Linked DNA regions of Homo sapiens. The protein of the gene in region 2 interacts with the protein of the main gene of each other region in a biochemical or structural test. Each region holds a gene or a part of one and is shown on either strand. Other genes may lie near its edges.

Region 1 (7,026 bases), on a different chromosome or scaffold from region 2:
ATAAGTCATACCTTTTTATGGATCTGCTCTACCTATCAGGGAAACGACGTCTGGAGCAGTAGTGTCTGCACACAAGGTATTAATCGACGAAGACCATGCACAATTTTGCTTGCACAGTTAAAAGGACGGGTGGGCATGGAAGTTAGGGGTCGGAGGGAAGTGAGATCTGAAAAGTTCATTGTAAAAGAAACTTGCCTCCGAATTTATAGCTTGTCTTATCTTTTCCAAGTTCTTGGCTTTCCCACCTGACCCCGAAATGAGCTCTGGACATGAATCCACCTCTTTTCAACTGAAGTTGACAAAGGTTCTGTGGATAGCGCTTGAGAAACAAACCAGTGCTATCATCACAACCTACGAAGACAAAACTGTGTCCGAGCACACTATGCGCCATCTTGTGTCTCACGGAAGCCATCTTTGCTCTCTACTGCACGCTATCATTTCTGGTGATGGGAAAAGAATCATCCATGGCACAGAGGCCAGTAGTCTTTTTACTCCTCAGAAAGGTCCTCAGGGGAAGGTGCCGAATACATTCTTCCCAGCTAACAGTTGCTGAGTATTTCCTAAGTAGGGACTGACACCAGCTGATCCCAGTGGTTGTCTTTGTTCCTCCCATATTGCGGTTCATAATAAATCTTCTTTCTCTCTGGTTTTAATCTCCCATAGATAAAGGCTTCACAGATTGAACACAAGTTTTCTTTTTTATACACAGGCTTAAGCCATCCAAAAACAATAAGAACAGTAATAATAATAAATAAATAGAAGTGAATCCATAGAAACTCTCGATATCTGTACAGCAGAAGTGACAAAGTTTAAGTGAAATATTTGTTTTCCCTTTTTTTCATCCACATCAAAGGCAGGAATACAACAAGGCATTGTTAGTTGTGGTGGGCAAACTGGAGTGTCTGCTGATATAACAAATTACGTTTGTTAAGGCCTTTGTCTATGCAGAGTTAATAGTAATGCAGAAGCCAGATTGATTCAAAAGAAAGGGTAAGAATCGTGAAGCAGGGAAGACGAAAAAAAAAAGAAAAAGAAAATTTAAAAAAAGAAAAAGGAACAACCAAGGGAGATGGAAAGAGAGAAAGAGATAATGCCAAAAAGAAGTCAATACTGTGTCTATGGATGAAGAAGTACACACTGCTTCCCTCGAGAGCTTCTCGGAGTCTTTGATGTTAATACTGTCAGAGTGAAGGAGAGCAGCTTGGTGGCCTCCAGCGGCAGTTAAAAGATGTTCATCCTCTCAGCCCGTCTGAGGAGTACGTTGGGAAGGATCGGTCTGGGGAAAAGGGCCCTAGCCTAGAATGTCCAGGTAGACCGGAGATGCCTTGGCCAAGTTCTGAAGGAGGGTATGGATGCCCTTGATGTTCTTCCTCATGTGGGGCTCTCGCTGCCAGCACCCCAGCATCAGCTCATACACCTCCTGGGGGCACGTGCGGGGTCGCTGCAGGACTCGGCCCTGAGTGATACACTCTATCACCTGGATGGAGATCAAAGATAGGATGAGACAGGAGGAAAAGCAATGCACATCGAAGAAATGTCAGTGCAAAAAAACAGCAGAAGAGAGGGCTTTTACAAAAGAAGCCCACTCTTGGTTTTGTTTTCTCAGAAGGAAGAGAGCAATTATTATAGGTTAGTTTATATCGTGTTTATTTTGATTGGCTTATATCCATTTGTCCAAGCCACTCTGATTTCACAAAACTGGTGGAAAAATAATTTATATGGAATGGTCCCAAACCTCACACTGGAGCTCCCACATGTTGTGGTTTTTATTGGTCTGAGATGGAACCTGAGTCACCTGGGTGTTAAGGCACTGACTGACAGGAAACCTCTCAGGCTATTGGATAAAGGAACTGGATTAAAAAGATAGAAATGGATCTGAAAAAGATGTACGGTGCCTGATCAAGATGCTGTGCCTCAAATATAAACAATATTTGCAAGCGTAAGAATAGAAAAAACAAAATGCTTGAGTTTTTCACTAGAAGTTAATGTTCTGGTGAAATATTCAAAAAGGAAAGAATCTTGAAACTTCATTGGAACAATACTAAAGAACTTGCTGGACTGTATGGATTCTGGAATGCTACGTCTGCTATTAATTTATCAGATGAGCTGCATAAAGTGACTCCTCAGTCCCATCACCAGAGGAGCAAGGACATAGCAGCGAGCACTGTGCTTTGCTTTCTCAGAGTGATTATACTTTGACCATGAAATTTAGAAACATAGCAGGCTACTTGGGAAGTGCTGCCACCAACAAAGCCCATAAGATCGTGTCCTGACATGGTCTTCCAACCCAAAACAAGGCCCCAGCCAATGGATGCCTCTGGGATCTCAGCCCTCTGGAGGGTCTTGGCCAGACCCATTGCACACCTCATTGTTTGACAGCTGGTACCAGGGCTGTTTGCCATAGGTGAAAATCTCCCACAACACGACCCCCAGGCTCCAGACGTCGCTTTCCGTCGTGAATTTCCTGTACATGATGCTCTCTGGAGGCATCCAGCGAATGGGCAGCATTGTGTGGCCACCGACCTGGGGAGAAAGGGATCAACAGGGAGGCATCAGTCACCCCGAAACCAGGTGTGGAAGGGAGCTGCTGGGGGACACTGTTTGCTTTCCTTATTTGCACTTTATAGTTTTAATTGTTTATAAACACATAAAGGATATATGACTTCTTCACAGTCTCAAGCAACAGAGACAGAAGGCAAAGAGTGATCAAAATCATTTAAAAAAATATTATCTGCAATTCTTTCTCTCAAAACCAGATAGGAGCAGGGATGATGATTAGGTAGATGATCACCTTGGATAAATAAAACTACACACACATACACACACTTTCTGCTAAGAGGATGACTCAATCTTCTAATTAACAAGATCACTTTGACCAGGAGAACAAAGAGGTACTCTGCATCCAAAATGACCAACCAGTGACTCTACTTCCTTGGCAAGGCCAGAGTCTCCTTCTGCTTTCAGGTCTTATGTGTGCATGATGCTGATTCAAACCCCTCCACCATCACTCAGCGATGGGCAGGTCAGGCATCATTATTCTCATTCTACAAATAAGGCAATAAGATTCAGATTGCTTACAGAAACAAAACTCAGGTCTTTGGATTCTAAGCTCAGGACTTTCCTCTATTACAGGGCACTGCTCCTTAGATTATTTACCACAATAGATAAATACATTTTTTAAATGCCCATTTTAATGAAAACACTGAGACTGGGGCATCAGATAGCAATCGCATTAGTACAGGCAAAGAAAACTTTCTTTGACAAAGTAAAATTGTATATGACTTCCTACTTCATGGAGGAAAGTTAGGAAGCTCATTTCCAGGTTTGTCAGGGATGCCCGATTTCAAACCCATGAACAGATTTCTGCACAGTAGTCCTGTGGCGGTAGGTTCTGCTTTTCATCCTGGTAACCCCCCAGCACCACCATGCTACACAGTATGCCTGACAGCTGAGAGCAGGTGGGCTTATCCTACAGCAGAAAATTGGACCTCTCTAACAACTCTGGGTCCTGAGTTTATAGAGTAATGGTGCATAGAGTTTCTGCCCAATTCTAATCTCAATATCCAGTTAGTATTTATTAAAGGAAGAAAATAAACTAATAGTGTCTGGAAAATGTTCCCCTACCCCAGAACCCAAGAGGCTGAAATGTCAGAGATGTCTAACATGCTTGGTGATTCCCAGTGATGTTCTTAGCACCAAAGAAAGCACAAGAGTACAAAAGGGGGAGGATATTTTATTTCATTCTTCTCTGTATGATGCATCCAAATTTGACAAATAGGGACAAAAACTTCTGGCTCAGGTGACCCATCTCTACTATTCAGTTTTTAATAAACAAAAAGCTCATAAAGGCTAAGTTGGCTTCCATTGGCCTTAGATTTCCTCACTCTTCCTTCAGCAGTGACAGGTCATCAGTGTTCAATGGACAGAGACTTCTCTTATGGTCTTACTTGATGTCTGAAGGTGGTGGCAACAGTCACCCTCAGGGTCGATACTCAAACTGCAATCAGTGTGGCACAGACACTGACCAACCAGAAAGGATGTGGGTAGTAAATATGGGTGCAGCTATTTCAGCACATTTCTGGTTTGGCAAATATCTGCCCTGTTTATAACTCTGTGACCCCCAGGTGCCCAGGACTTTGGGAGAGGGAATCTGCTGACATACACAGAGGACCTGTTGTTTCCAGATGCTTTGGAGGACTTGCGGTATGAGGGTAGAATGATCTCACCAGGTCTGGGCAGCCCACATGGCAATGCCAAGGAGAGGACTGCTTTGGGCCATGCAGGGATGCTGCTGCCACCTTGCAGAGGTGGGCAAATGACCCTTCTGTTTATGTGCCAGAAAAGGCTGGGCACTTTGGCACACACATTTTCAAAGATTGTTAACCCCTAGAATAAAGCATCTCTAGTCTCCTTGCCATTCTCTGAAGCCATAATTGGAATGTACCATATGGTTTAGAAAACATCTATACACGTCTGGTGTCATTTAATTGTGTGAGCAAACCATAAAGAACTCAGGACTCTTGGTGGCACCTCTAGCCTACAGATGATGAAATTGCTCCTGGCAATTATGTGACCTTGCCTGGGTGGTGCAGATAGGACAGAGGTCTACACATTTTAACAGACCATTTTCATCCACACAGCAAGCATTTTATGGGAACCTCTTAAGATACAAACATGGCATTGTTTTGCTTACCTAACATGCAAAAAAAAATGGGTAAGATGAAATCAAAGGGAAAAATAATCCCTTCTGCTATACATCTTATTTTTAACCTTACCTCTCTCATTTTAACCTTCTTCCTACCCTATAAAGAAGAGCTCATTTCATCATTGTTCATGTCAGCATAGTGCTATGGTGCAACCAGCTCCACTGTGCATTTTGGTGTTGCTGTTCTTTCTCGTTAGATAAAATAGAACCCCAGTGGTCAAAGTGGGCTTAGAGAAGTAGGAATCTTAAAATAAAGACTGGGACCTGGTCTTCTTGTTATGCTGTCTGAGTTGTGTTATTTTAACAACCCCAGAAGTTCCTAGATCAAATATGTCAAATGTACTGTAAATTGCAACCCTCTTCAATTCAAGGAGATCCATCAGGGACTGAGGCTTATTAAAGTATGTGAGGAGTTTGGCAGGAAAGAACAAACTTAACTTTGGTAAATTAAACTATTTGAATGTATGTTTGTGGGAGAGATAACCATTTATATATGTCTCAGGTAAGACAGCTAAAAATACACTTTGAGGTGTGTTAATCTAGCAAGATCTCAGGATTTCCATATCTACCTGGATATTCACAGCTGCAATGCAGTGGATGACAATAGCTGGTTTCCAATCGCTCACTTACCTGTTTCCTACTGGGGTAACCTGGACTAGTTGCCAAATCTCTCTGTGGCCAAGGTTTAATAATTATATGTAAGTAATAATGTATACCTCCTAATGTTGTTGGGAGGTATTTACTCAAGCAGGCATTTGTGAAAGTGTTTTCTAAGTCTTAAAGTATTAATGCTTTTGAGGTGTGGCTTTCTTCTCTGGAACCTTCACTCTCTTACTTACTCCAGAAGCAGCCATTCTGGAGACATTAAGAAGAATCATCATATGTCACTCTCCTGAACTCTTCATTTGGCCTTAACCAAGTGGCTCCTTTGATAGCAGCACCCACTTTTTTTGGTCATTAGCAATGCAAGATAGAAAACCTGATACTGGTTCTCTATCCTGAATTGCTAATAGCCAAGAAAAAGCTTCTGTTTCCTTTAAAGAAGAGAGAGAGAACAAAAGATTCACGTTTTGATTTACATGTTTTCTCATCTGATCATTTATTTTCTGCTTGCTGTCTCTTTGGGGCAGATTTTTCACTCTAATTCTTTCAAGAATCCCTTCTGGGATTTCACGCATGCTGTTATAAATAATGCTTTCCTTGTTCAGATGTCAAATGGGTGAGTGGTGGGACAATCTAATAAAAGTTCAGACAGGGTTCACAAGTTTTCTAAGCCCATTTAGTACATTTCTGAACATTTCTTTTGCAACCCTTTCTCAGAATTTTGAAGCATGTCACAAAAGTAGACCCTCCCCCCAAAAAAGTCACTGTTGTTACAAATTACTGTCACATTCTAGTTATAGTCACTTGATGGTTTTTGGACCACACAAACAACACACTGTGCAGCAACAAACACAATGAGACATTTGTTTTGTATCGTACTACTTGGCAACTTGCCCTCATGCCCTTGCTTAAATATTTGTGAGATGGAATGTGATCCCAGGAATGACACTGAGAGTCAGAATTCCTGCTCTCAGCCTGATATGCTGTGGGGCCTCAGGGGCTCTCCAGTAATTAAGTTGAATGGGGTCTCATGGTCTTCACTAAACTCACCAGGTTGACCTGGTGCAAGATGAGAAACCCAGTTATCTGGAGAGTTGACTTGGACTTGCAATTTTTATTTTCCTCAACCCAAGAGACTGGAGTTCTAGTTCTTGTGCTGCTGCTATTAACCAGCTTGAGCAGGTACCCTCAGGTCTGGCTTCTGTCTTTATTGGTAAAATGTGAAGAGTTAGGGCAGCCCTTGGTTACTTCCAGCACAAAAACGCCGTGGTTCCGGAATCACCCACCACCTCAGTGCCACCGTAATCATCCATCAACACTCAGTCTTCAACATTTACGAAGAATTTCTATTCAATTATCTCACTTGAACCCAACAGTTATGCTCTACAGCAGACATGGACTTGCCTGGATAGTGCAAGTAATGCCCCTAAAAGTCAGTCAGTTTAAGTAGTTTACCTAAAGCCACATACCAAACCTTTCCCCATTGGACATCCTGTATTCATTAGGATGGACCACTCTGCTTTTCTGCTTTCTCCAGTCTCCACACACACTCTGTGTTCAGCCAGCAAGCTTAGGTGGCTTCCTACCCAGGGCCAAGTTACTCATGCCTCTTAGAAAGTTTGATCTTCTTCCCTTTCTCCCTACTTCCCAAAGGTCTCCTTTATGAAGGCAAGCTCAAGTCCCACCACTTCAAGAAAAAACTCTCCCTTCCTGCTGCA
Region 2 (7,026 bases):
GAAGTCAAGGTGAAGAGAAATTTTGTAAAACGTAAAAGAAATGCCCCAGATATTGTGTACTTGAATCTCTTTGGTCTGATAAAGTATATGGGTTACTGTGAAACTCTGAAAAAATTTTAAGATGTCTAATTCATTCAAATAAGTTATGAAACTCATTTGTTTATTATGTTTAATTTAAAGGACTTGGTTCAGATCAATTCCATCACTACCTAAATATTCAAACTGGTCCCCTTTTGAACTGACTGAAAATAGACATTAAATTCCAGGTTCATATATGTTTCATATTTTACCTTCAAAGGTTTAACTGCTTTCTGCATGTATTACAATATAGGGGAGTGCATCAGGGAGTTCCTATTAAAATTTCTTTCTGCAGACATTAAGGTATGTGGAGCACTGAAGATTTATCCCATGGTAACCAATAAATTGTATAACTAATTTCATTTTAGTGATAAGTGAACATTGCTCAACAAACACACATACTGCTTGTCATACCTTACCTGGAAAGAGGCTTTATTGAACATAGCTGTAAAATTATATTTTAAGTTGAATTACTGAATTTGCACAAACATTTCTACAGAATTGTTTTAAAAAACAAGCTTTGTCATTTTCCACTACATTTTGTTGTGCTTTTATATTAATATTTGCAAATGCTATAATTTAATACTTATATTCCAATTGCTTGCATAATCAGTTTTTTTAATCCTGGGGTGTTGAAAGAACATATAATAATAATATTCTTCTTAGACAAAAGTCTTTTTAAATGAAGTTAAAAGCTGAGATAATTTAAGGAAAATGATCTTCAAATTTTCATAACCAACAGGTTTAAGTGAAATTTACAATGCATTGGAAAACTGGCTGGTTAAAGATATGATTTGTCGTCAGGTAGCTCAAAATTATTTTTACAGGTTTTTGTTTTTTTGTAAAAGTGTTTTTATAATCTTGGTAAAATAATAAAATAATATTTCACAATTTGCACAGAGTCTGACTAAAGGGCAGAGGCATATTACCCTCAGAGTTTAGAATAAAGCCAGATTTTTCAGGCCCAGTTCCACTGTAGAGTTAGTATGCACTGCAATCCCAAACATTTTCTTGTTCCCTCTAAAGCTAGGGCCAATTTCATTTCAAATGGAGGTTAGAGTAAAAAAATCACTTTTGTGTTTTACCACCTTCTGCACTAAGTATTCTTAATAACCTTTTGCTCTGGTTGACCCATTTAATAACCTGGAAGAAAAAAAGTGTTGCTCCATGTCTGGTCTCAATGGAAGTGATTTTCTAATGGACAATAAGCCGAAAGGCCATGGCTGTCTAGGAGGTTAAACAACAAATATCTTGTCTGCATGGGCTTACGCAGCAGCTTCGGTCCTTTCTTCTTCAGAAGCGGCTTTGTTGTCTTGCCTGTAATTTGCACATTTAGGCTCTGTAGTTTGTTTATAAAATAGTTTTACACAAACCACTCTTAGCAGTGCAAGCTTCTGAGTTGAAAATTATTCAGGCTTGTTTCATTGAAGGCACTTGGTTTCCATGGCAATTTATAAAAGATGGTGGTTTGGTTTCTTCATTGGAACAGATGACGTAGTTTGGGTGTTCAAGTGGCCGCAAGCAAACTCCGATAAGCCTGTGTAACATGTAAGCCCAGGTTTACCATCCTGGATAGTAGTGCATGCAAAAAGAGACAGCATACAGTTATCTAGCTTAGCCATGGGAGAAAAATAATAATAATAAAGGTGGGATGGGGATAAGGTGGGGAGAAACATGAATGCTTTAAATAATTCTGAGTTCGGGTTATTTTCAAGGAAGGGTAACAGCCAAAGGTAAAAGGGCCTACATTTATTTAATTCTCTACGAAAACCTTCTCGTAAGGAAAATAAATGCCAGCTCTTCACGTACCCTGTTTACAGTGAGGTTTTTGTTGGCAGGCCATTAGGTTTCCATGGTAACAAGCAAACTATTCATTTGAAACAAAACCAGCCATGACTTTGTGCTTTGACAAGGATTTCTATAGCTCTTTTTTTTTTCTTTTTTTCATTTTTTTTTTTTTTTCCAGAGTTCAACCAGATGACGCTGTAATCTTTTTAGCCACAAAAGCACCTGAAGGTCTCTTCTCTACTCAGGTCAAGATTATCTTTTATGTTTAGTCTGGAATAAGTTATACTTCCATGATGTCTTTTTATCCCCAGTGCTTAAAAAAATTTGTTTTTATTATTTTATTTTTGAGTCAGTAGTCAGTGGAGGAATCTTTGGTAGTTTGTTTGTTCAATGTCCATTTACAAAGACTCTTTCTTCATGCCAGTGCCTGGTGAATCTTTTATAGCCTCTGCCAGGATAAGGTCACCTTCGAGGACTTAAGATAGAGATGAGGACGATAATGGGAAAAAGCCATATATGAACCAAAATCCCAACAGCACCATCAACGGAATCTAAAGATAAGGAAAATAAATGCAAACAAAAAAAGAAGAATAATAAGCATTCCACGTAGCTACTAACACAACCTTGGTGAATAATAAAACAAGTATATGGAAAATATTTCTGGAAAATATTTATTTTTATTTTGTTTTATTTATCAGCTTCATTGCTAAGGGAAGTGAAAAGGAAAATGAATATATGGTTAAGGCACTTGATAAAAAGATTTACAGATTTTGAATTGATATAATATGCTATGAAAACTTGTTCATAACATATTCACATAGGTTTGTGGTTGAGCTCAATCTTAAGAGTTCTGCTAGCCACAGGAAAGCAGGAACATGGAGAAAATTATCAGAATACTTCAAAAAGTAGATTTTTTTTCAAGCTTCCCGAAGTGGATAAGCTTGAAGACTGAAAGAAAATCTATCTTAATGAAAACTAGAAAGGGATGGTTATGTGTACAGAAATTAACTATTGCAACTAGTAGATGATCCATGTTTAGATCGGTCCATTATCTATAAATTATACAAATAATTTTCTCTTTATTTTAACTTTTAGAGGCATGATGAAGTCCATTCAAACTAAAAAATCCCTTCCACCAATCGGCCTGGAAAGTCCTACTGTAATTGGGATTTCTGTTAAAACCTGGTGTCCAGTTGATGCCTCTTAGAATGCATGCCTTACTGTGGAGGGATAACACAGATATAATTCATTAAACTAGCTAAAGTTGCAAAGTGGCTTGTATCTAGGGGAGAATTGAGTTTGAAAATTGAGACATACAATCTTATATCTGCATGGTGTGGACCATAGTTCCATTTATTGCCTGGAAAGAACTGGCAGCCTGAGGAATCAGGAAGAGGCTTTCAGCCTTCAGGCTGGTCTGTACTTAGAATATAATATTCATTTAATAATCATCAATCAATCAAATGCTAGTCATAAAATGAACTTAATAAATGGTAATTAAATGACACAAATGTAACAGAAAACTTTCTGATGCCAAATAGATTATTTGTGTTCAATTAAGATTATTTATTTCCCCTAATTTATAGAGTTTAAATATAAATACACCCAATACATACAGGGGGTGTTTTCATATTTAAAACTGCCACACATTTCTTGGATTTGCTAGTTTAAGAGAAAAAAAAAACTAATTATAAAAATGTTCTATTGTAATAGAACTTGTACAGTAATGAAGTCCCTATGGGCTTTCACAGGCATTTACTGTGGCTAGTTTTATCAGTTATGCTTTCTTTCTGCACTAGGGAGTAAATAATTTCCTTTGCTTTCTTCCTTTGAAAAGTTTAATTCAATTTATTGAATTTATTTATAATATTTGTGCTTACATTATGAAAATGTAAAATTTCTGTATATAGTTGTAACTGCCTTCAATTAATAAAATGTTACTGCCACTCAGTCATACTATGAAATTCAAAAGAAATCCTATTCTCCTTTGAGGAGAATACATGTTTTCCTGTGCATTAGAAAAACTGTTCTTTTGAGTATAGCTACTGGTTTTCTAAAGCAGAACTAGACAGACACAAGGATACATTTTTACTAAATATGTTACTTGAAATACTAAGTTTATGACTTTTTAATATATTTTCATTTTATATAACAATGAGCAAAATGGCTCATTGTTATATAAAAATCTTAGTTTTTGTCTTTTGACAATACTTAAGAATTGAGTCAATTCAGTTCATATGAGTAATCAGTGGACAATTGTACACATTCAACTTTCAACATCTAGACTGGTACAGTTTCTCACTAAATATAGAAAATTACCAAAGACTCTGATTTGCTCTAGATTTATACAACATAGATTTTCATGCTTTTGTATGTGCTAAATAATTGATGAGTAATTTGTGTAAATTTAGTTTGATTACTTTCTCTATATATGACCACAAAATAAAAGATTCCAGATGAGTCTAAGATAATCCTTCAATTGCAGTCATTTTTAACAGGAATGATTTTAGATTTCATAGCTTCGAATGTGAAATATGGAGATGAGGACTTTAAGAAGCAGCTAAATACATAATTCTAAATCTTTGTGCATTATTCATCATGTTTTATTTATATCTCTTCTATTATAAAATGGACCTGTGACAAAAAAATAAAATTAAATATATCATTAAACCATAATACTCAAAAAAGGGTATAAAGTGAAAATCAAATTATTAAACAAGCTTGTGGTGCAGATAGGAGATTAGACCATAAATATGAGGTCTACTTCATTACTTAATATATGTATTTAGGCTCTTTACAATGCTGAATCTGTTAAAATGGCTGGCAAAAGGCCAGGCACAGTGGCTCACGCCTGTAATCCCAGCAGTTTGGGAGGCCGAGGCAGGTGGACCACCTGAGGTCGGGAGTTCGAGACCAGCCTGGCCAACATGGTGAAACCGCGTCTCTACTAAAAATACAAAAAATTAGCGGGGTGTGGTGCCGCGAGTCTGTAATCCCAGCTACTCAGGAGGCTGAGGCAAGAGAATCACTTGAACCCGGGAGGCGGAGATTGCAGTGAGCAGAGATTGCACTGTTGCACTCCAGCCTGGGCAACAAGAGCAAAACTCCGTCTCAAAAAAAAAAATTGGCTAAATCAGGAAATATATTCACTATATTCACAAACTGGACGAATGAAAGCATCTATGCTGACATGGTAAGGCTTTGTGTCCTCACACAAGTCTCATCTTGAAATATAATCTGCATAATCCCCATGTTTCAAGGGAGAGACCAAATCTCATCTTGAAATATAATCCGCATAATCCCCATGTTTCAAGTGAGAGACCAGGTGGAGGTAACTGAATCATGGGGGCTCTTCCCCTATGCTCTTCTCATGAAAGTGAGTTTTCACTAGATCTGATGATTTTTATTATTATTATTATTATTATGTTTTTGAGACAGACTCTTGCTCTGTCGCCCAGGCTGGAGTGCAGTGGCGTGATCTTGGCTCACTGCAAGCTCCGCCTCCCGCGTTCACGCCAATCTCCTGCCTCGGCCTCCCGAGTAGCTGGGACTACAGGGACTACACGCCCGGCTAATATTTTTTCTTTGTATTTTTAAATAGAGACGGGGTTTCACCGTCTTAGCCAGGATGGTCTTGATCTCCTGACCTTGTGATCCACCCGCCTCGGCCTCCCAAAGTGCTGGGATTACAGGCGTGAGCCACCGCGCCCGGCCGATCTGATGATTTTATAAGGGGCACTTCCCCCTTCTCTCAGCAATTCTCCTTGCTGCCTTGTGAAGAAGGTACTCTGCTTCCCCTTCACCTTCCGCCATGATTGTGAGTTTCCTTAGGCCTCCCAGCCTTGCTGAACTGTGAGTCAATTAAATCTCTTTCTTTTATAAATTACCCAGTGTTGGGCAGTTCTTTATAGCAGTATGAAGATTGACTAATACAATTTACATTGTAAATATGTGCTATGTATATAGGTTCATCAAATATTTTAATACAAGTTTTTAAATCTTCTAAAACAAATAATATCAAAGTGTTTTAAAATCTTAATTAAAAATCAAAGTGTACTTGCCTTACGTAGATCTAAATCAAAATCTCACTTCTATTTTATCTTAGGCCAAATATGTCTACAATTGAATTTAATACTTTAAAAATAACTGAACAAACTTTAGGGTATTACATATAAGAAATTTCTAAATAAACCAACTAAAAATAACTCCGTTTTTAAAATTAATTAAATTAAATGTTAATTTAATAGTAATGTTACTTTAACGTTACAACAAACCAATCTCAAGCAAAGATACTTACTCTTAGTTGCTAGGTCTTGTTTTGCACATTCTCCTTCTGCAATTGATACATCATCAATAGCAATGTCACCTTCTATTCCAGGACCTCGGATACCTTCAAAAATGAGCTACAAATATGAATGAAACAAACCTAAATGTGGAGCTTTGATTTGCAGATCAGTTTCTCTTGAGAAATCAAGGTGACAAAAATAAACTTGTCAGTAATCCTGGCATCTTTTATATTTGATGGCTTTCAAAATTAAAACTTGCAGAAAACATAAACTTTCATCCCAAAACCAGTAATTGAATCTTCCTTGCATTGTATTAGTTTTTCACATCAAAAGCTCTGTGTCGATTTTAAAGCAAAACTAAACTTAATTAAATAATACAATTAAAAAAAATGACTACACATCCTCTTTTAATTTTTAAGGATAAGAAAAAATGTTTTATTTGAAAAGTCTTTCTCTGAGATAGATTCTTTCTGGTTTTATCTGAACATAACTCATAACATTAGTTTTCTAGAAATATTTTAAAGAATGAATCAATTCTGAATTCTTTACAACAGTAATATGTATATTGAAGCCCGGAACAAAGTGTTTCTATCTCTGACATTGATTTCTCACAAATAGATTGAATAGGTTCGTCATATTCCCATGTTGACTTTATAATTTACCTCCATGATTTCACTGCTGATATTCCATTTTTTTAAACTTGAAGATATGTATCAGTCTATTTATGTTGAATATCTCACGGTATACCTTTGAATTTATGGTGTCTATAACAATGGTGGTCACTGAGGCTCAGTGCATGAATATTGAAAGAATAAATGAGTACAATCAGAATCCTTTATTATTAAATACTTAAAACAATGACAATAGAAGCACA

What was found. Proteins that work in one complex are often made in the same cells at the same time.
Region 1: the proteins of MDGA2 (region 2) and NTRK2 form a complex in vitro, tested with the Homo sapiens proteins (one study listed by BioGRID).

Annotation. Positions count from the first base shown.
Region 1 is NC_000009.12:85,015,703-85,022,728, reverse strand, and holds part of NTRK2 (BDNF/NT-3 growth factors receptor isoform a precursor), read right to left. Parts: intron 2,524-7,026; coding exon 2,365-2,523; intron 1,478-2,364; coding exon 1,292-1,477; 3' UTR 1-1,291. UniProt on the Homo sapiens protein: Receptor tyrosine kinase involved in the development and the maturation of the central and the peripheral nervous systems through regulation of neuron survival, proliferation, migration, differentiation, and synapse formation and plasticity.
Region 2 is NC_000014.9:46,839,603-46,846,628, forward strand, and holds the end of MDGA2 (MAM domain-containing glycosylphosphatidylinositol anchor protein 2), read right to left. Parts: intron 6,270-7,026; coding exon 6,164-6,269; intron 2,418-6,163; coding exon 2,329-2,417; 3' UTR 490-2,328; downstream 1-489. UniProt on the Homo sapiens protein: May be involved in cell-cell interactions.